Homo sapiens: one gene and its partners. The protein of the gene in region 1 interacts with the protein of each later gene in a pairwise test. Each region holds a gene or a part of one and is shown in the gene's direction. Other genes may lie near its edges.

The links. Proteins that work in one complex are often made in the same cells at the same time.
Region 2: the proteins of BAG4 (region 1) and TRAPPC6A interact in binary tests that used the Homo sapiens proteins (3 or more experiments, as listed by UniProt).
Region 3: the proteins of BAG4 (region 1) and ALG13 interact in binary tests that used the Homo sapiens proteins (3 or more experiments, as listed by UniProt).

Annotation. Positions count from the first base shown.
Region 1 is NC_000008.11:38,207,472-38,214,328, forward strand, and holds the end of BAG4 (BAG family molecular chaperone regulator 4), read left to right. Parts: intron 1-40; coding exon 41-295; intron 296-1,541; coding exon 1,542-1,796; intron 1,797-2,536; coding exon 2,537-3,022; 3' UTR 3,023-5,830; downstream 5,831-6,857. UniProt on the Homo sapiens protein: Inhibits the chaperone activity of HSP70/HSC70 by promoting substrate release. Prevents constitutive TNFRSF1A signaling. Negative regulator of PRKN translocation to damaged mitochondria.
Region 2 is NC_000019.10:45,167,834-45,175,237, reverse strand, and holds part of TRAPPC6A (trafficking protein particle complex subunit 6A), read left to right. Parts: intron 1-7,404. UniProt on the Homo sapiens protein: May play a role in vesicular transport during the biogenesis of melanosomes.
Region 3 is NC_000023.11:111,676,721-111,684,573, forward strand, and holds the start of ALG13 (UDP-N-acetylglucosamine transferase subunit ALG13), read left to right. Parts: upstream 1-4,449; 5' UTR 4,450-4,498; coding exon 4,499-4,579; exon of another isoform or gene 4,580-4,704; intron 4,705-4,936; exon of another isoform or gene 4,937-5,106; intron 5,107-5,411; coding exon 5,412-5,574; coding exon of another isoform or gene 5,575-5,580; intron 5,581-7,853. UniProt on the Homo sapiens protein: Catalytic subunit of the UDP-N-acetylglucosamine transferase complex that operates in the biosynthetic pathway of dolichol-linked oligosaccharides, the glycan precursors employed in protein asparagine (N)-glycosylation.

The DNA of each region.
Region 1 (6,857 bases):
ACTAATTCATCTTTTTTTCACTCAACTTGGTTTTTTTCAGAGTTTGAATTCTTATACAAATGGAGCGTATGGTCCAACATACCCCCCAGGCCCTGGGGCAAATACTGCCTCATACTCAGGGGCTTATTATGCACCTGGTTATACTCAGACCAGTTACTCCACAGAAGTTCCAAGTACTTACCGTTCATCTGGCAACAGCCCAACTCCAGTCTCTCGTTGGATCTATCCCCAGCAGGACTGTCAGACTGAAGCACCCCCTCTTAGGGGGCAGGTTCCAGGATATCCGCCTTCACAGGTGAGTTGTTTTCTATTGGGAAAAAAATGAATTCAAAGTCTCTGCCTCTTGTAAACAGTGGAAGAGCATCTGTTCATACTAGTGCTGATTTAATAAGACACTTCTAGATTGGGAAGGCTTTTATATTGATGCCTTTCTTATTTGTGGCAGCTATTGCAGTAAATGGACTTTGGCTGAAGGTCATAATCATAAATTTTTATACTGAAAGTAATCTTTAGAGAGTTGCTGCTTGAAAGTTTCCCTATCTTAGCCTTTTTTTTTTTTTTGTGGCGTGATCTTGGCTCACTGCAACCTCTACCTCCTGGGTTCAAGCAATTCTTCTGCCTCAGCCTCCCAAGTAGCTGGGATTACAAGCACGCGCCATCACGCCCAGCTCATTTTTGTATTTTTAGTAGAGATGGGGTTTCACCATGTTGGCCAGGATGGTCTTGATCTCCTGACCTCGTGATCTGCCCCCCTCGGCCTCCCAAAGTGCTGGGATTACAGGCATGAGCCACCGTGCCAGGCAAATCTTAGCCTTTTTTAGCACCCTGTTAGGTTCTTTTTTTTTTTTTTTTTTTTGAGACGGAGTCTCGCTCTGTCGCCCAGGCTGGAGTGCAGTGGCACGGTCTAGGCTCACTGCAAGCTCCACCTCCTGGGTTCATGCCATTCTCCGGCCTCAGCCTCCCGAGTAGCTGGGACTACAAGCGCCCGCCACCGCGCCCAGCTAATTTTTTTTGTATTTTTAGTAGAGATGGGGTTTCACCTTGTTAGCCAGGATGGTCTCGATCTCCTGACCTCGTGATCCGCCCATCTCAGCCTCCCAAAGTGCTGGGATTACAGGCGTGAGCCACCGCGCCTGGCCAGGTTCATGTTTTTTTAATATTCTGTGAATAACTATGTTTATTTCTCTGTTCACTTCAAGAGGAGTTCTAACATGTCTTTATTTGTGCTTCCTTATAGCATATGGGTCCGTTTGTTTATAGTATCTATGGGACAGACTTGGGTTTCATCCATTGAATTTTTAGGCCTTATTCCTTCTGAGTTTTATTGTCATTAAATCTACCCCTGGTATCTTTGGAACCAACTTTTTGAGGCTTGGAGAAATTACTGCAGCTGATTAATTAGATTTACTACAGTTTAGTCCGGTAGCAGCTAATGTATACTCTGTTAAGAAGAGAGGAAGCATCTCAGAATCTGCCTGTAGCAGAATATTTTTATTATAAGTTTTTCACAATGACTGGTATATTTCTTCTTCTCAATCTAGAACCCTGGAATGACCCTGCCCCATTATCCTTATGGAGATGGTAATCGTAGTGTTCCACAATCAGGACCGACTGTACGACCACAAGAAGATGCGTGGGCTTCTCCTGGTGCTTATGGAATGGGTGGCCGTTATCCCTGGCCTTCATCAGCGCCCTCAGCACCACCCGGCAATCTCTACATGACTGAAAGTACTTCACCATGGCCTAGCAGTGGCTCTCCCCAGTCACCCCCTTCACCCCCAGTCCAGCAGCCCAAGGTAGGAGACCTAAATGTTGTTCCTTTAATGTGTGTGTAATTAGGAGAACATAACATGGTTTATATAGTTTCTGTACTGGTTTGTGTTAAATGGGGACTAATTACAAAAAGTTGGTGACTACTTATCTATAGCTTTACCTCAGCTCGGTTTCCTTTTTCTTTTTTTTAATAGACTTTATATTTAGAGAAGATTTAGATTCACATCGTTTTTGTTAAAAGACAGAAAGATACACATTTTCTGTTTGTTGTAATTCTTCTAAACGTTAAATGCAAAGATGCATTTTACTACTTCAAATAATCTATGAACAGAAGACAAAACCAATGTGAAATATCTGTAGCATGAGCTTGTATTTAAACCACAGACTTGAACATTATCACTTGTGGCTGTGTTCCTTTTCAAGACCTTGCTTGAGGTTTTTAACCTTTTAGGGGAAAAACTAATTCTTATTAATTAGGTCACAGGATGGACTATGAGGTGCTCATGGTGATGGACCTGCCACAGGGCAGGTTCCAGCCATTATAACTCAAAAATTCTGTGCCTTTTGTCTGACAGGGCACTCCCTTTTATCTTCTTAGGACTGTGTTTTTTTGCAAATGATTAAGGAGAGGGGTCCAATTTTATTGTTAGGGAATCTTTTCATGTACCTTTCTGGTCAAGTGAAAGATGTGGGCTAACAAATTTGATGTTGATGCATTCCCATTAAAACAGCTCTTTTCCTCTTTTTGCTCTCCCACTCCAAGGATTCTTCATACCCCTATAGCCAATCAGATCAAAGCATGAACCGGCACAACTTTCCTTGCAGTGTCCATCAGTACGAATCCTCGGGGACAGTGAACAATGATGATTCAGATCTTTTGGATTCCCAAGTCCAGTATAGTGCTGAGCCTCAGCTGTATGGTAATGCCACCAGTGACCATCCCAACAATCAAGATCAAAGTAGCAGTCTTCCTGAAGAATGTGTACCTTCAGATGAAAGTACTCCTCCGAGTATTAAAAAAATCATACATGTGCTGGAGAAGGTCCAGTATCTTGAACAAGAAGTAGAAGAATTTGTAGGAAAAAAGACAGACAAAGCATACTGGCTTCTGGAAGAAATGCTAACCAAGGAACTTTTGGAACTGGATTCAGTTGAAACTGGGGGCCAGGACTCTGTACGGCAGGCCAGAAAAGAGGCTGTTTGTAAGATTCAGGCCATACTGGAAAAATTAGAAAAAAAAGGATTATGAAAGGATTTAGAACAAAGTGGAAGCCTGTTACTAACTTGACCAAAGAACACTTGATTTGGTTAATTACCCTCTTTTTGAAATGCCTGTTGATGACAAGAAGCAATACATTCCAGCTTTCCTTTGATTTTATACTTGAAAAACTGGCAAAGGAATGGAAGAATATTTTAGTCATGAGTTGTTTTCAGTTTTCAGACGAATGAATGTAATAGGAAACTATGGAGTTACCAATATTGCCAAGTAGACTCACTCCTTAAAAAATTTATGGATATCTACAAGCTGCTTCTTACCAGCAGGAGGGAAACACACTTCACACAACAGGCTTATCAGAAACCTACCAGATGAAACTGGATATAATCTGAGACAAACAGGATGTGTTTTTTTAAACATCTGGATATCTTGTCACATTTTTGTACATTGTGACTGCTTTCAACATATACTTCATGTGTAATTATAGCTTAGACTTTAGCCTTCTTGGACTTCTGTTTTGTTTTGTTATTTGCAGTTTACAAATATAGTATTATTCTCTACTTCTTGGTACATTTTGTAGTAATATGTTTAATATAATTATTCAAGAGACTATATTGACAGCCAGATAGTATGGCAGTTCTGAAAAAATTTATATCTTTTCACCACTTGAATATACTGCAATGTGTAGTGAGTAAATTGTCTCCCTTTTTCTATAGATCATTAGGTTAGAGTTTTTTTCTTCTTTTTTTTTTTTTTTTTTTTTTACCACTTCTGCTGTTCATGGTAGTAGTGGAAGGTAAATTTGGAAATGGCATTGACATAAAATGAAAATGTTTACGGACACTTTTCTTTTTTGCTTTTTTATTGTATTTGGATAAAGATCCACTTAAAAGTTATCTGTTTTTTCCTGTTTTTTTTTTTTTTCCCCAAAGTGTAGTTATGTTTTCACTATTGCTGCTTCTATAGAGGGCATTGTGATAGAGAGTTACAGATGAAACATTAAATGCCACAGTGAGTAGAAATAATTACTACAAAAAGTAATAAATATGATTACTTGGTAATATCATTCTCCATCTAAAATACTAGTTTCACCTGTGAGCAGATTTCAGCTCAGTTTATAGTTAAAAACAATGAGGGTAAAATGGGATTCATGCTCAGGGAATGAATCAGCCATAGTTAGAGTGGGAAATTATTATTTTCTTCATTTAAAGGTAGATTTTATGTTTATTTCCCTAAATTGCATAAGATAAAATTGTCTGTTTAATAAAAAGACATTTATTACCATTATTAACAGTCATTTTAGAGCCAAATTTAAGAAAAGGATATTGAAAGGGTCTTTATTGGCCTTGTTTGGGTAACTCTATGCTGTTAGATAGAAGAGACTTAGGTAAATAACTTTTTATGTCTGAGGTGAGTACACAATATTGGTTCTTGGAAAAATAGCTGTTTCTTCATAAGATACCCAAGTGATAATTTTTTTTCCCCTAGACTGTCAGGCCTATGAGTAAATACTAAATCTATTAGCTGTCCCCACTCATAAACCAAACCAAACCAATACAAACAGATGAGGAGAGGAAATGTAGTAAAAATACTGGCTGGGTCTTATGATTGGGATGAGTGATTTTATAAGATAATATGGTGATAATTTTATTCTAGGATTTTATTTTTGGCCTAATATAGGAATGTTTAAAAAAGGCTTTTCTATGAAAATTAGAAATTTATACTTGAAATTAAAAGTCTAGAAGGGGGAGGACCTTAAAGCTAAGCTACCAGTAAGACAATGAATAATTCAGAAGAGAACACTATTCTTTTACTGACTGAGTGCCCAAGATGCCAATTTCCATGAAGTCTTGATTTATATATATGTACACATGTTATGCACATACATGTTTGTTTTCTAACAGTTATTTTTTAAGCTTTTGAGATAATTTTAGACTTACAGAAGAGTTGTAAAAGTAGTAGAGTTCTTGTATACTCTGCACCCACCTTGCCCTTATGTTAACATCTTACGTAACAATAGAACATTTGTCAAAATTAAGAAATTAACCTTGATATAATACTAACTAAAGTAGAAAGTTTAAAAAGTAGAGATTTTAGTCTTTTCACTAATGTCCTTTTACTGTTCCAAGACCCAGCCTTGCATTTAGCTATCATGCCTACGTCCTGTCTTCCAGTCTGTGACAGTGTATCATAACAGGGGATACCTGATGTTGTAATGTATTTCTGGTGTTGTTAACCTTGATCACTATGCTAAGGTGGTGTCTGCTAGGATTCGCTACTGTAAACTTACTGTGTTTTCCTTGTAATTATTGAATATTTGCTGGAGATACCCGGAGACTATGCAAATGTCCCGTTTCTGCTTAAACTTTTGCTCATTTTACTATCCATTGGCAGATCTTGCTTGTGGCAGTTACTACTGTGGTGTTCTAATGGTGATTTTCTATTTCTCTCAATCCTTCTACATTTATTATTGGAATTCTTCTGTAAGGAAGAGTTGTCAGTTCTGGATTTATATTTTTAACTATAATAAGATATTCAGGATAAGTATAGATTTAGAACTTAAAGATGTTAAATCATGTTAAAATTATTCCAAATACCAATATCAAAGAAAACTAAGTTGGTAATCTATCTCAGAAAATATATGAACTTAAGAAGGAAAATAGTATTTATGATTTGTAGAATTGGTTCAACTTTTGACTTAATACTGACTTTGGACTGAATTCAAAGTTTTCTTGAAATTTCACATCTGGACTTTTTAAAGTGTCTACATTTATATTACTTTGGGGATCATTTTGTCAAAGTCTTGAATAAAGTTACCCAGTCCTGGCATGATAAACACAACTATGTTTTTTTTTTTTTATAATAACCCTCTGTTGTTCCAAGTATGAATGCCAATGAAACTGTTTAAACAAATAAGCCCTAATGAAGTATACAGGGGTTGGATTATATGTGTCTCCACATGTTGGTGCAGAATTCTTTTAAATGCTTTTAAAAATGGGGTTCTGAAAACAGTTTTTCAGTTGGTTAATGTAAATAATACCATTAAAGCTAGGCAGGTTAAAAAAATTTTGAAGAATGTAGATTAAATAGGCATAAAAAAGTTTTTGGGGGATGGATAGTTGATGGAGCTTTTCTTTTACAACTTTACTTTTTTTTACTTATTTTTTTAAAAAAGTAAGGAGTTTACCTCAATTCGTAGAAGTTACGAGTTTAAAAAGTCAGTTCTATGAAAGGCAGCATTCTCCTGATCCCACCCCCATTTCTCCTTCTCTAAAGGCAACCACTTTCAACTGAGTTTTTCTTTTGTTAATCAAAAAATTTTGTTTTTAGAGACAAGAGTCTTGCTATGCTGGTCTTAAATTCCTGGGCTCAAGTGATCCTTCTGCCTCAGCCTCCTGGGTAGCTGCGACTACAGGCATGGACCACCTCAACCAGCTTCAACTGAGTTTTTATGTTTTTTTTGAGACGGAGTCTTGCTCTGTCGCCCAGGTGGGAGTGCAATGGCGCGATCTCGGCTCACTGCAACCTCCACTTCCCAGGTTCAAGCCATTCTCCTGCCTCAGCCTCCTGAGTAGCTGGGATTGCAGACATGTACCACCACGTCCAGCTAATTTTTGTATTTTTAGTAGAGGCGGGGTTTCACCATGTTGGCCAGGCTGGTCTCGAACTCCTGACCTCAGGTGATCTGCCCACCTTGGCCTCCCAAAGTGCTGGAATTACAGGTGTGAGCCACTGTGCCTGGCCAGGTTTCCAGGTTTCTCTCTCTCTCTCTTTCTCTCTCTCTCTCTCTCTCTCTCTCTCTCTCTCTCTCTATATATATATATATATGTTTTCTTTACTTTTTTTTTTTTTGAGACAGAGTCTTGCT
Region 2 (7,404 bases), on another chromosome or scaffold:
CCAGGCTGGAGTGCAGTGGCGCGATCTGGGCTCACTGCAAGCTCTGCCTCCCGGGTTCACGCCATTCTTCTGCCTCAGCCTCCCGAGTAGCTGGGACTACAGGTGACTGCCACCACGCCCGGCTAATTTTTTGTATTTTTAGTAGAGACAGAGTTTCACTGTGTTAGCCATGATGGTCTCGATCTCCTGACCTTGTGATCTGCCTGCCTTGGCCTCCCAAAGTGCTGGGATTACAGGTGTGAGCCACCGCGCCTGGCAATTTTTTTTTTTTTTGTATTTTTAGTAGAGACGGGGTTTCAATGTGTTAGGCAGGATGGTCTCGATCTCCTGACCTCATGATCTGCCCACCTCGGCCTCCCAAAGTGCTGGGATTACAGGCGTGAGCCACCACGCCCGGCTGATTTTTTTTTAAAGAGAGTCTTGCTCTGTCACCCAAGCCGGAGTGCAGTAGCATGATCATAGTTCACTGTAGCCTCACACTCCTGGGCTCAAGTGATCCTCCCACCTCAGCCTCCTGAGTAGCTAGGAGTACAGGTGCACACAACCATACCCTGCTAATTTTTAAATTTTTTGTAGAGATAGGTTTTCACAATGTTGCCCAGGCTGACCTTGAACTCCTGGGCCCAAGCGATCCTCTGGCCTCAGCCTCCCAAAAACTCACACCTGGGATTACAGGTGTGAGCCAGCACGCCCTGCCAGGATGCGTCTGAATTGTGTATCTGTATGATCCTTTAATTCACATGCGTCTCCCCCAGCCGGAGTGTACTTTGTGCGGGATGGGCCTGGGTGTGTATTGATGACCACTGGATGTCCTGGCTCGTAGTGGGTCCTCAGTGTGGACGTGTTGAGGAGGTGAATGCAGAGCCTGTGCCGTGGCAGGTGGGGATGGGTGGGGACTGGGATTCATTTGGCTTATGAGCAGTGCTAGCTCTTCCCTCCCTCCCCTCATATGAGTGCTTCCTGTGTGCACTCATGGCTTCTCACTCTTGATTTCATTTGATCTTCTGATGACCCAGAGAGGTTGGCATGGTCCTCCCCGATTTACAGATGAGGCGGCGGAGGCTTTGATGGACGGAGTTCCTTGCTCTCAAGTGGCAGAGTCAGGAGCGCGACCAGGCCTCCCACTTCCAAAGCCTGTGCTGTAAACTCTCACTTGCATTTCCCAGCATTTGCCCTGGGAAGGATTTTAATGGGTTTCTGTGGTCAAGCGAGTGTGGGAAACTGGCTTACTCAGCTCTGCTCACCACCAGCCTTTCAGAGCACACGAATGTGCCTGGGACCTTGGGCAGGGGTTCCCTACCCAGCTGCCACTACATTCCGATGCTGGAGTCCCACACCAGAGACTCTGACGAACCCGGTTGGGGTGAGGCCTGAGTGTCAGGCCTCAGAAAGCTCCCAGGTGGCTCTCGCTGCAGCTAGGGGTGAGAACTGCATCGTTTCCCCTCACTCCTTCCTCCTGGGGAGCCCCGTTTTTCAGGGGGCCTGTCATGAGAAACGGCTTCCTCAGTCCTTTCTCTTTATTGGCCCCACCTCCTCTCTCCATTCCTTCTCTTTGGCCCAAAAGGGTTCCTCTGAACCAGACAGGCCTCCCGTTTCCTGAGGGCGTCTGTGCAGTACTTGCACAGTGTTGACTGCATTTAGTCCTCAGGACAGCCCTCCCGATTCACAGAGGAGGGACCCTGTGCTTGGTAGAGGAAGGGATTTCGAGGTGGTTCAGCAAGACTCAAAGGCAAAATTAGAACTCAGGCTTCTGGCCCCAGGGCTTCTGGGTAGCGCAGGCCGCCTTTCCCACCAGCTTCAGAGCTCCTTGAGGACAGGGATGGTGGCTCCTTCATCTCTGTCCCCACAGCACAGGTGCCCAGGAGCCACAGCCAGTGTGTAGGGCTTTTGTGACCTCCTATCCTGCCTGGTACGGTGGTTATTTGTGGCCATTCTCCTGGGCTGTCACAGGTTGTGAACTGGAGGACCGGCCAGAGGGGCCAGGAAGGCCTTTGTTCTCTAAGGAGGAGAAGCCCTTGGAGGAAGCAGCCGTGGCTTTTCTACCTCAGAGGCTTTGAAGACAAGGGAAGCCTTTGGGCAAAGAGAGGATTCCCCTGAGTGCATGTAGTAAAGAGCTAAGGCGCTGTCACCCATTGTCTGAGACCAGGCCCGAGGCGCCCCGAGAATAGCCCTGCTGCGCCAGGCCTCCATCCACCACACCCCGAGAGTGCACTTGGGCAGCCCCTTATCTGAGGAGGGTGTGGGGCGGGCGGAGCGGCTGTCAGATAGGTCCCTGCCCGGAACACCGTCCTGAGCATCTGTGGCTGGGAGCTCCAGCGAGGCCCTCCTGGGAACTGGGGCTCCATCCCGAAGGCAGTGGGAGCCATAGCCGGGTTTAAACTGAGGTGCGCCTGGCTCAGATTTACATTCTAGAAATGTCTCCCTGGCCACAGGAATGGACTGGATGGAGATTGGCCTGGGAAGGGCCCCGCTGTTGCAGGAGCTTAAGGCAGAGGCTGTGGTGGGCTCAACCTTCCGGGCTGGGCCAGGGGACAGGATGGGGAGTTCTGAGTGGGCAGAGGCAGGATCTGGACTTGCTCAGGATGCCTTGCTGGACCAGGGAGGAGAGTTGAGGGCAACAGCAGGGAAGTCCTGCAGGCTTCTCGCACCCACCCCTCACTCACCCATCTGTGTGCCAGCACTTCTGTCTGTGTGCTTTTCTTAACCAGGGCTGCTCCTTCCCTGGGTTCCCCACCACACCCCTGGGCCTGGCACAGAGTGGCTCAGCAGGTGGGCGTTGAACAGGGTCAGCCTCTGCCCAGGAGCTAGCAGGTGCCTAGAGAACAATCGAGGGGTAGGGCAGACACAAGAGACAGGAAGGGGTGGAGCACATGGCCCCCACCCGCCTCCCTCCCAGTTCAGGGCAGAATGTTCTCTTAAAGGCAAAATTAGAACTCAGGCTTCTGGCCCCAGGGCTTCTGGGTAGCACAGGCCGCCTTTCCCACCAGCTTCAGAGCTCCTTGAGGACAGGGATGGTGGCTCCTTCATCTCTGTCCCCACAGCACAGGTGCCCAGGAGCCACAGCCAGTGTGTAGGGCTTTTGTGACCTCCTATCCTGCCTGGTACGGTGGTTATTTGTGGCCATTCTCCTGGGCTGTCACAGGTTGTGAACTGGAGGACCGGCCAGAGGGGCCAGGAAGGCCTTTGTTCTCTAAGGAGGAGAAGCCCTTGGAGGAAGCAGCCGTGGCTTTTCTACCTCAGAGGCTTTGAAGACAAGGGAAGCCTTTGGGCAAAGAGAGGATTCCCCTGAGTGCATGTAGTAAAGAGCTAAGGCGCTGTCACCCATTGTCTGAGACCAGGAGCTCCCAAGTGTCTAAAGGGGCTTTGGTTTGCTTTTTCCGTTCATCCTCCTTGGAGCTCAACCCCTTGGCTTCAGTCTGGACGTGTGAATCTTCCTTTAGCTCAGGACATTTTTCTCCTGTGATCTCTCTGATGATTTCTTCTCCTGCATCGTTCCCTGTATGTCCTGTAGGCACCACAGGGAATATTAGACTTCCTGCATCTCTTCCAAGCATCCTGTAGCTTTTCTCTCATTTTTTCCTCCCTCCTGTTTTTCTTCTGGGAGGTGTTATCTGTCTTACAGGTTTCTCTGTTATTCAGTTCCCTTGTTAAAAAGTGTTGATTTTGGCCACCATATTTGTTCATTTCCAGGAACTCTGCTTTGTGTCTGATTGATCCTTCCTGTGTGGTGGATGTCATTAGCACCGACACTGATAAGACTTCCCTTCCACCTTTCCTTTCATCCGGTCTGTGTGTAAACTCAGCAGAGGCAGGCGTGGGGAGCCCCAGAAATGCACCGGCTCTGGGCTGGGCTCTGGCAGATTCATATGAATGGGAGAGTCTCTGTCTGGCCAGCCCTTCTGTTTTGTTTTGTTTTGTTTTGTTTTGTTTTGTTTTGTGACTGAGTCTCGCTCTGTCACCCAGGCTGGAATGTGTTGGTGTGATCTCAGCTCACTGAAACCTCTGCCTCCCGGGTTCAAGCGATCCTGGTGGCTCAGCCTCCTGAATAGCTGGGATTATAGGCGTGCGCCACCACGCCCGGCTAATTTTTGTATTTTCAGTAGAGACAGGGTTTTGCCATGTTGGCCAGGCTGGTCTCAAACTCCTAACCTCAAGTGATCCTCCCGCCTTGGCTTCCCAAAGTGCTGGGATTACAGGCAAGAGCCCCCGCGCCCAGCCCCTTCTGTTTTTAAGAAAGATAAACCCCTAACCTCTGAAGAGCTTTTGCAGTGACATGGGCATGGACACCACCAGGTCTCGCTGTGATGAGGTGGGTGGAGGCTTCTCCCTTCCTCCTCCGCCCTTTCTTCCCTGCCTCCTGCTCCTCCTCGGCCCCTCCCTTTTGCTGTGATTCCCCACAGCCCTTTTCAGTTCAGCCAGGATCTGAATGGCCCCTGTCCAGGGCTGGGTACAGTGGGGCCAGCAGTCACACAGCCGTGTATCCAGCTGTTGCCACCTGCCAGTCACACCACCACTGTGAGCAGGTACTGCCATTAGCCCCATGGCACATGTGGGGAAACTGAGGCACGGGATGGTTGGCTAATCTGCCCAAGGTCACAGAGCCAGTGAGTGGCGGGGCCGAGATTCAAACCCAGGCAGTGTGAAGTTCATGAAGGGAAAAGCTGAACTTGCTGGAACCCCTTCAGACTCCACGCTCCTGGCCTGGCTGAAGGACCCTGCTGACTCTCTCCCCCAGCTCACCCCTCCGGGGGCTGCCGTCCTGGCTGTGACCTGGGCCTGGTGTGCCTTCACAGCCCACTCCTGCTGTTGAACTCCCCCTCTTCCCTCAGGCTCAGCACAGTCGGGGTGCTTCCTAGGGGTGGGAGTGCACCCTCGCAGCACACCTGCCTCCCTCTTGGCAGTCGCTGTGAGCATAGTGAAGCCGGCCATTGCACCTTTGCCCATTCCCCGGGTGAAACGCCAGCTCCAGCAGGGCAGGGACTGAGTCTGTGGCCCACTGTGGCTGGCATTCAGGCAACGTGGCCTGCGTTGACCCTCAGGTTGGCTGCACTTGCCTGCAGGGGAAAATGCCCCCTCTGCAGCCCACTCTGAGGGCCCCTTCCCTTCCCCGCCTCTCACCCCTGCCTTGGCACATGCCCTTTGCTTGGAATACCTGCCACCTCCGGCCCCCTCCTGGAGGGCAGGCTCTGCACTGCACTGCCCGGGCCCCTTGCACTCAGTCTCCCAGCCCTTCCCAGATTGTCAGTTGGCATCATTTGGGCACCTGTCAACCCTGCCAGGCAAGGTAGGTGAGCTCCTGGAGGACACTAGGAAATGTCTGTGGCATGAATGAGGGAGGGACATAAAGGAGCCCTTAGCGAGTGGGGACACAGACGTGTTCCACCAGAGTGCAGCCTGGCCCTGCCTCTGGGAGCTTTGCTGTGGACACAGACGTGTTCCCTCAGAGTGCAGCCTGGGCCCTGCCTCCAGGAGCTTCGCTGTGGGAGGAGGTGACACGGGAGCCGCAGCTACCAGGCAGCGAGCTCTCGCCCGGGCTGTTCTAGGTGCTGGCTACAGGAGCCCACAGAACAGACCCCCTTCCTTCCTGGGGTTCTCCTCCAGCCAAGGGCTTCATCCCTCATTGGCTGGGGCCGTCTCCTTGTTTGACAGATGTGGAGGCTGTGAATGCAATAAGTAAGGCTCCCGGAACTGCCTTGAAGTACTCAGGTTGCCTTTACCAACCCTTACTCCTTGTGAGGATCCTGGAGGTAGCTGCCATTAATATTCCCCTCCTTTGGGCTGGACGCAGTGGCTCACACCTGTAGTCCCAGCTACTTGGGAGGCAGAGGTAGGAGGATCACCTGAACCCAGGAGGTAGAGGCTGCAGTGAGCCAAGATCGTGCCATTGCACTCCAGCCTGGGTGACAGAATGAGACCCTATCTCAAAAACAAACAAAATGACCCTCTTTTTTACATGAGGAAACTGAGGCACAGGTATTCAGCCATTGGCCCAGGTCCCACACTGGTAAGTGCTGGGGCGGATCTGGACCCAGGCGGTGGCTCTGCACCTGCGCCGCTGGTAGTGCTGCCATGAAGGACCCACGGGCAGGGGTCTCTTCCCACTCTGTCTCTCACACACACCTGCCCGTCTCCTGCAGTCATCGGCCCCTTCCATGAGCCTCTGCTGTGTGGCCGGCCCTGCTGTGCCTGAGGACACTGGAGGAAAGCAGATGGTGACACCAGAGGGAGACAGTGCAACAGGAAGCCGTGTCGTTGTCACCCATGAGGGCGAGGCCTGGCAAGGGGCCAGGCAGAGGAAGGGCCACCTTGGCTTCAGATATGGGCGACCTCAGCTCAGGCCCCCCCGCCATTCCCAGCGCTCCTCACCTCCGTGAGGCCCTCAACAGCCATGGCTGTCACCCCACCCACCCTCCTATCTGGACCTGCTGGGGTGTGAAAGACAGTCCCGTGCTGAGGGTGCCTTGGATGGGTTCTTCTTAACCTCAGAGCCCCTGTTTCCACCTGGAATTACAGCCTTCTGTGAGGCTGGAAAGGTAAAACAAGAAGGCTGTAGAAAACGCCTGCCACACAGTATGCCGGTCCTGGAATAACATTTTGTTGTGACATTGATGAGGAAAAAATAATGATTCCCGGGACCATTGTCTGGGTGGTGGTTGTGGGTTCTCCCTGTGCTGGTGCAAGTTCCTCTGGGCTCTCCTTTCCTTGTGCATCCTTGGGATGTGTCCGCTGGGTGAGCTCCCGGGTCTCCGTGGGCCCAGTGTGAGTGAGTGTGGGCCCGTGTGCGCCCTGTGATGGGATGGCGTTCTGTCCAGGGTCCATTCCTGCTTTTGGCCCTGCCAGGACGGGCTCTGGCCACCCAGGACCCTGAGCTGGAGGAAGCGAGTAAATGTCTTACTGGTTTTTTGTTTTTTATTTATTTTTTAAGACAGGGTCAGGGCCGGGCGCGGTGGCTCACGCCTATAATCCCAGCACTTTGGGAGGCCGAGGTGGGTGAATCACGAGGTCAGGAGATCAAGACCATCCTGGCTAACATGGTGAAACCCCGTCCCTGCTAAAAATACAAAAAAATTAGCTGGGCGTGGTGGCGGGTGCCTATAGTGCCAGCTACTCAGGAGGCTGAGGCAGGAGAATGGCGTGAACCCGGGAGGCGGAGCTTGCAGTGAGCCGAGATTGCGCCACTGCACTCCAGCCTGGGCGACAGGGCGAGACTCTGTCTCAAAAAAAAAAAAAAAAAAAAAAAAAAAGACAGGGTCTTGCTGTTGCCTGGGCTGCAGTACAGTGGCATGATCATGGCTCACTGCAGTAGCGACCTCCTGGGCTCAGATGATCCTCCTGCCTCAGCTTCCCAAGTAGCTGGGACACGGGTGCATGCCACCACACCTGGCTAACTTTTGTATTTTTTGT
Region 3 (7,853 bases), on another chromosome or scaffold:
ACTCCTGACCTCAAGTGATCCTCCTGCCTCAGCCTCCTAAAGTGCTGAGATTACAGGTGTGAGTCACCACACCCAGCTTGGAAAGCCTTTTTGAACCAGTCAAAATAATCTAAGCAGACTCATCTTTTTTTTGAGTGAATCGTTGAATGGCTTTCCAATTAATTTGCCAGAGAAAAAGCACTGGAATGACCTTTAACAAATCACAGGTTATTTTCTTTGCTTTTGTTATGGCCATGTCCCTTTTGAAATGGCAGTCCTCTGGAGGTTTTATCCATTTAGTTAGGCATATACATGTTTGAGCCACAAAAATGACCCCCAGCATGTGAATTAATTGATAGATTTTGGTGAGTCTGGGCTAGTATGCGCTTACGATTAAATGAAAGTGGCATTCAAATTCAAGGAAGTCAGTTTTAGGACAATCGCCAAGAGTTCAGATTTAGACTAAGGAATGTAAGAAATGGTTTGACCTCCCTCTACATTTTCACTTATTTTAAATGGGGCAATAAGAGGAGTTGAGGGGTTATGGGTAGTGTGCCTGGGATAGACAGTGAGGAGAAAAAAGGAGGTTCAGAAAGTGAAGAAGGTAGTGGCAGAGGAGAATAAAGTAGAGGTAGTGCAGAGGGAGTGAAAGGAAGAGGAACAAAGGGTTTGAGTCCTTCTTGGGAACAGAATCTGGGCTAGGAGGATTTTCAAGTTTTTGGAGGCACTGAGTTCGGAATTAGTTTCTCTCAAGAAGGCAGTCTGAAATTCTTGATTCCATTTGGAGTTTTCATAGTACCTATTAAGGAAAGCCTTATATTGTCTTTGAGAGGCCTAGATTCGTCTTTGTTCTAATTGCAGGCATAAATAAATTTGATTAGGGATACAGAAAGCTCCCCAATGTAGCCAAAGAAGTTTTAAATCCAAAAGTTTCATCCAGAGCCTTAAATAGGCACAAGAATTTTCTCCATAGGTTTTTAAATATAAAAGTCATCAGTGCACCATAAGGTGGCTGGTTGGAGACCATTACCTTAGAACATGGGTTACCCATGGCACTATAACAAAGGCATCCCTTTGAGTACAACAGAAACATGAGTGTCCCCACAAAACTTGAAATGTGAGCATACTCCACCAAGCACAAGTACATTGCAAAATGCAAAAGTACTCCACGAAGTGTGAGTGTACCCCACAGGGCCCATAGAGGCAAGTGAACATGCTCCCTGGAGAAAACAAAGTCTCGGAGACCTCAGCCTAAGAGCCCGAGATCTGCAGATGGGGGAACACAGCCTCCAATGTAAACTAAGTGCTCCGAAGAACAAAGAGTGGGTCTGGCTTAAATAGGGAAAGTTCTCCTCCCAGCCCTTAATCAAGTTTGTGTATGCAAATAAACAACTCAAAAGTAGTCCCCATTAGTTGAAAACAGCTGAGTCCTGATTGGGTAGTTTCCAAGTCCCAACCAGAAGTCTCTGTTGGATGTCACTTTCAGAAAGGCAGCTGGTGAGTTTTCCTGCCATTGTGCATGCTACTCTTCAAAAGGACAACTGCCTAAGCTACAAGATTTAAAGGAAACATCCTGTAGAAATAGGCCCAAGGGTCTTCTCAGGCTATGTTCTAGGCCCAATTTACCTCCAATCCTTTTCCTCCTTAAAATAATTTCTTCTCACAGCCTCTCTTCTGTATATATCCAGGCAGGGCAAAGCACAAATATGAGCTAAGGTGATATTTTAAATAGGGAATACACAAAACATTAGAAGGAGATAGAGTGAGCAATTATCTTAACAATGGTTATGATGGTGGTAGGAGAAAAAAGGAGAGTTTTGAGAAATAACCTCTCCTATATGTGCCTGCCTAAGTGTAATTTATCTGTGGTACTTTATCGTCCTAATGTGTAATGTTATATTTAAATGGTTCACTGGAATAATTCAATAGATTGTAGATCAATGCTTCAGGCTTTATCACCTCTATTTTACAAGTCATGCTTGCTAATGGAGGTTAACTGTTTGCAGCTTCCAGGGGACCCTAGAGGGCCCTGGTTTTCTGAGAACCACAGTTGGTAGAAGAGCCCAAGTTGGAGCGATTTTTTTTTTTTTTGAGACAGAATCTTGCTCTGTTGCCCAGGCTAGAGTGCAGTGACACAATCTCAGCTCACTGCAACCTCCGCCTCCCAGGTACAAGTGATTCTCCTGCCTCAGCCTCCCAAGTAGCTGGGATTACAGGTGCCCGCCACCGTGCCTGGCTAATTTTTGTATTTTTAGTAGAGATGGGGTTTCACCATGCTGGCCAGGCTGGCCTCAAGCTCCTGACCTTGTGATCCACCCACCTCGGCCTCCCAAAGTGCTGTGATTGCAGGCGTGAGCCACCGTGCCCAGCCAGTTAGAGTGATTTTCTAAAAGCCACTTTTGATGCACCTGTAGTCCCAGCTACTTGGGAGGTGGAGGCGGAGGCGGGAGTGCTCTCGGACCAAACTGAGGGTGGGGCTGCTATTTCTCGTGACCTAATAACAAGATGCAGATAAACTGTGGAGGAAGAGAGTTTTTATTTCTGTAACTGTTTACAGGGAAAAGGCCTGGATATTATCACGAAACCAACTCAAAATCACGATGTTTTCCAGAGCTTATATACCTTCTAAGCTATATGTCTACATGTAAGTGTGCATTCATCTAAAGACATAAGTGATTAACTTCTTTTAATCTATAAATAAGGTCTGAATCTTGAAGATCTTCCTCTGGAGCCTCAGTAAATTTACTTAATCTAAATGGGTCCGGCAAGGTGCGGTGGCTCACGCCTGTAATCCCAGCACTTTGGGAGGCCAAGGTGGGTGGATCATGAGGTCAGGAGTTCGAGACCATCCTGGCTAACATGGTGAAACCCCGTCGCTACTAAAAATACAACAAATTAGCCGGGCGTGGTGGTGGGTGCCTGTATTCCCAGCTACTTGAGAGGCTGAGGCAGGAGAATGGCGTGAACCCGGAAGGCAGAGCTTGCAGTGAGCCGAGATTGTGTCACTGCACTCCAGCCTGGGTGACAGAGCGAGACTCCGTCTCAAAAAAAAAAAAAAAAAATCTAAATGAGTCCAGGTGCTGGCGTGATTACCCTTATCTTGTCTCCTGCTAAATCACAGAGGTTTGGGGAGTTCCTTCGGACTCCCAACAAACTTGTTTGTGGAGGCCTGGGGAGTTTCTTCAGACCCACAATAAAACTTGTTTAATCCTAAATGGGTAATGTTAAGACTTCCTTTGTTATTTTGTCATGCTTTAGGGCCCAGGAAAGGCCTAGGCAAAACTCTTGGTGGGCTTTAGTTACATTCCAGCCTTTGTATAAGGGCACTGGCTTTTTTTAGCTTTTAATATTAACTTCACCACTCAGTACTGAAACAGTTGTTATGGAGGCCTCCGTTAGTGAGACGTGGCCTGCCACAGGAGGACTGCTTGAGCCCAGGAGTTAGAATCAAGCCTGGGCAACAGAGCAAGACCCCATACCTTATAAGATGCCTTTTATTTTTAGTTTTTTTATTTTTTCGAGACGGGGTCTCACTGTCGTCCAGGCTGCAGTGCAGTGGTGTGATCATGGCTCACTGCAGCCTCAGCCTTCTGACTAGCTAGGAACACAGGTGGGTGCTCCCACCCCCGGCTAATTAAATTTTTTTTGTTTGTTTGAGACAGGGTCTCATTCTGTGTCACCCAGGCTGGAGTGCAATGGCAGGATCTTGGGCTCACTGAAACCTCTGTCTCCTGGGCTCAAGCAATTGTCGTGCCTCACCCTCCTGAGTAGCTGGGATTACAGGAGCCTGCCACCACGCCCGGCTAATTTTTGTATTTTTAGGAGAGACAGGATTTCACCATGTTGCCCAGGCTGGTCTGGAACTTCTGACCTCAATAATATACCTGCCTTGGCCTCCCAAAGTGCTGGGATTACATACTTGAGCGATGGCACCTGGCCTAAAAAATAATATTTTTAGAGACAAGGGTTTTGCTATGTTGCCCAGGCTAGTCTTAACTCCTGGGCTCAAGTGATTCTTCCCAGTAGCTTGGGATTACAGCCACTGTGCCTGGTAAGGCACTTTTATTTTTCATATCCCCTTAGCCAACTCGAAGTAAAACCATCTCTCAAATGTATCTTGACAAAACCTGGCAGCAAACAAAAAAATCTCAAACTTGTCTGTCATTAAAAGATTGTGGTACCCACGCAACGACACCAACTCAATGCTTAGGGTATGATGTTTTTTTTTTTTACCCATCAGTTTTGAAAAAGTTAATTACATTTGGCAATTCCCCATTCCCTTATAGTGAGGGGTCTCAAGAGCTGGCTCCTACACATAAAGGGCTTAGAACAGTGGCTGGTACCTAGGCCACCAATAGTCTTTTGCCCCACCCAACCGGTGACACAGCCCGGGGCCCCGCCGCCCCCTGGCGGCCATTACGGATTTCCGCCTCCCTCACAGAAGGCAGTCACTGCAACGTGCGTGGCCTCAGTTGCGTCATATCCGGCCCTTGCGATCAGGGCTTGAGGAACCCGCGCCATGAAGTGCGTGTTTGTTACCGTAGGGACCACCAGCTTTGACGACCTCATTGCGTGTGTGTCGGCGCCCGACAGTCTGCAAGTGAGTGAGGGAGGCGAGCAGGCGGCGGCTTGGCTCGCCACCCGCCATCTCCGGCCATACTGCCAGCCGCGTTAGCCTTGCCTGACCGTCGCGCTCGGAAAGAAACCCCCGCAACTCTACCACAGGTGCCGCTGCCCCTTAGCTGGCTTCTGCCCACGCCCGGCGGGGCCCTTCTCCGGCTACCCGGCCACTCGGGGTTGCCTGTTTCCTCTTCCCATTATTCCGGCCGCTCCTCTCCCTCATTTCTTCAGCTCCTTTTCCGGTCTGCCCCCGCGCTCTATTCTCCGCCTCCGCGTCCTCCGCCCCTCCTTCCAACGGCTCCGCCCCTCCGAGCTCGGGTTTTCCACCGGGCTCGGCAGTTTTTCCTCAGGCCCCCCTGTGGACCGCACGTCGGCGCCGGCGTCTGAGCCAGCCGAGCTCGCCTCAGAGCCCGGCTCCTTCCCCTCAGCACTTGGCCGGAGCCCGCGCGGTTCCTCTCCTCAGCGCGCGTCGTCCCCTCAGGGCTCCCGGTTCTCGCAGTTGATCAAGTGAGGCAGAACGGGTAGTGCCTGGGTTCCCCCCGAGTTTGCGACTCCTTTTCCAAAGTCTTTTCCTGCTGTGGCTTTCGCGGGACTCTGCGAGCTGGGTCGCTTAGATTCATGAGTGCTTGGGAGGTTCCTCGTCGGGCCCCGGACCAGAAAATAGTTTTGAAAACTAAGTGAAATCGGCCACAGATAGGCTTTTTGGCGGCCGTGCTCCGATGTTAACGTCAAACTTTAGTAGTGGTGGTGGTTCCTGCTCTGTTTTACATAGCCAGTTTAAAAGGCCCTCACATTCTGATTTCCTCTTTCAGAAAATCGAGAGCCTTGGTTACAACCGACTTATCCTGCAAATTGGTAGAGGAACGGTGGTACCTGAACCCTTCAGTACTGAGTCGTTTACTCTGGATGTTTACAGGTACAAGGATTCCTTGAAAGAAGACATTCAGAAAGCAGATCTTGTTATTAGTCACGCAGGTAAAGGTGCCTAAGAATCTCAGGGTTGGGTCTTTTAATTTTAATTTTTTTTAAGTTCTGGGGTATTCTGGGGGTACATGTGCAGGATGTGCGGGCTTGTTACAAAGGTAAACGTGTGCCATGCATCACCTAGGTATTAAGCCCAGCATCCATTAGCTTTTTATCCTGATGCTCTCCCTCCAATAAGGAACTGACACTTGAACCTTTTCGAGGTAAAATAAAATCGCTAGCTGAACTCACTGTAGCCCTTTTTGAATACACAACTTATTTGAATATGACAATTGAGAACTTTACTGGAGAGAACTTAGTATTTTGGGGTGAGAGAAGAATGGGAAATTAACCACTGTAGTCCACCTTTACAATAAAAAACCCTAAACACAGAGGAGCAAAATAATTTACCCGGGGAAGTGTAATAAATTGTCAACTTGACATTAGTACTTGGGCTTAGATCTAAAGGAGTGTTCTGCCTGCTGATTGGTTGGATTGGTCATGGAGAAATTGGAATTGTAAGATTGTTTACATTTCTGTTGAATGTGAGTGAAATGAATCCAGTCAAAAATAATAACAGCTACATACTGTGTAAATTGTTTCCTCTTCAGAGGACCGCCCTGATGGTCTAGTTAATTAGACTTCTAGTGCATTCAGAAGAACTGCTTTTGGGGAGCAATGCAGTTTTGACTGTTGTGAAGAAAGGTGTTTCGTTTTTTCCTTTCTTTTTTTTTTTTAAAGTCTAGTTTGAGGAGAGAAAAGTCTTTAGAAATAGACATTACCAACAGATTCGTGATTAAAAATGTATCTCCTAGGAGGTAACAGAGCCTTTGGCACTGCTCTGAATGCTTTGTGTATATTAACTTTACTTTTTTAAACAATCCTGTGAACTAAGTACTGTTAGTATCTCCATTTTACACATGAGGAAACTGAGACACAAGAGTGGTTAAGTAATTTGTCCAGCCGGGAAGTGGTGGACAGATAACAATCTGGTGCTGGAGTTTATGTTCTTTTTTTCTTTTCTTTTCCTTTCCTTTCTTTCTATTTTTTTTTTTTTTTTTTTCTGGGACGGAGTTTCACTCTGTCACCCAGGCTGGAATGCAGTGATGCTATCTCGGCTCACTGCAACCTCCACCTCCCGGGTTCAAGCGATTCTCCTGTCTCAGCCTCCCCAGTAGCTGAGATTACAGGTGCACACTACCACGCCCCGGCTAATTTTTTTTTTCTTTGTATTTTAGTAGAGACGGGGTTTCACCGTGTTGCCCAGGCTGGTCTCAAACTCCTGAGCTCAGGCAATCCACCTGCCTCGGCCTCTCAAAGTGCTAGGATTACAGGCATGATCCACTGCACCCCTCCGGAGTTAATGTTGTTAACTAACCACCCTAGCATAAGATACCCAAAAAGGACTTATCTACTCACTTATCAATCTCCTTGCTCTCATTTAAAATAGTTAGATGATTTTACATTTCAAAATTGAATTGATCCTAATATTCTATATTTGCATATTCATGGAGATCTATCCTTGACTATTTCTGGGATAGCACCTCACATGTAAACCCATAAGAAGTGGTCAGGGTTTTTCATTATTGATGCCTGTCTGTCTCTATTGTAGGCTTGCTTTTCTACTTGGGGTTGAATAGAAATGAAGTATAGTTTCACATACAGTATGTCAAACCTGGATCTTATTTGGATTCAAGGCCATGCCCAAAGCATACTCCAGATGGCCCATCGTACAATGGTTTCACTTAGAGTTTTTCAACTTTATGGTGGTGTGAAAGCAATACGCATACACATTCAGTAGAAACCGCTCTTCGAGTACCCATATAACCATTCTGTTTTACACTTGGAGTATTTAATAAATGGCATGAGATAGTCAACACTTTATCATAAAATAGGTTTTGTGTTAGATGATTTTGCCCAACCACAGGCTAATGTAAGTGTGTTCTGAGCATGTTTAAGGTAGGCTAGGCTAAGCTGTGATGTGTGGTGGGTTAGGTGTATTAAATGCATTTTCTATTTAGAATATTTTCAACTGCTTTTTTTTTTCCTTTTTTTTTGAGGTGAGTTCTCACTCTGTCACCCAAGACAGGGTGCAGTGGTGCAATCATAGCTCACTTCAAGCTCCAACTCTTGGGCTCAAGCAGTCCTTCCGCCTCAGGCTCCCCAGTAGCTGGGACCACAACCACCATGCCTTATTGTTTTTGTTTTTATTTTGATTTTTTAGTAGAGACAAGGTCTCTCTATGTTGCAGAGAGTGGTCTTGAACTCCTGGGCTCAAGCGATCCTCCCAC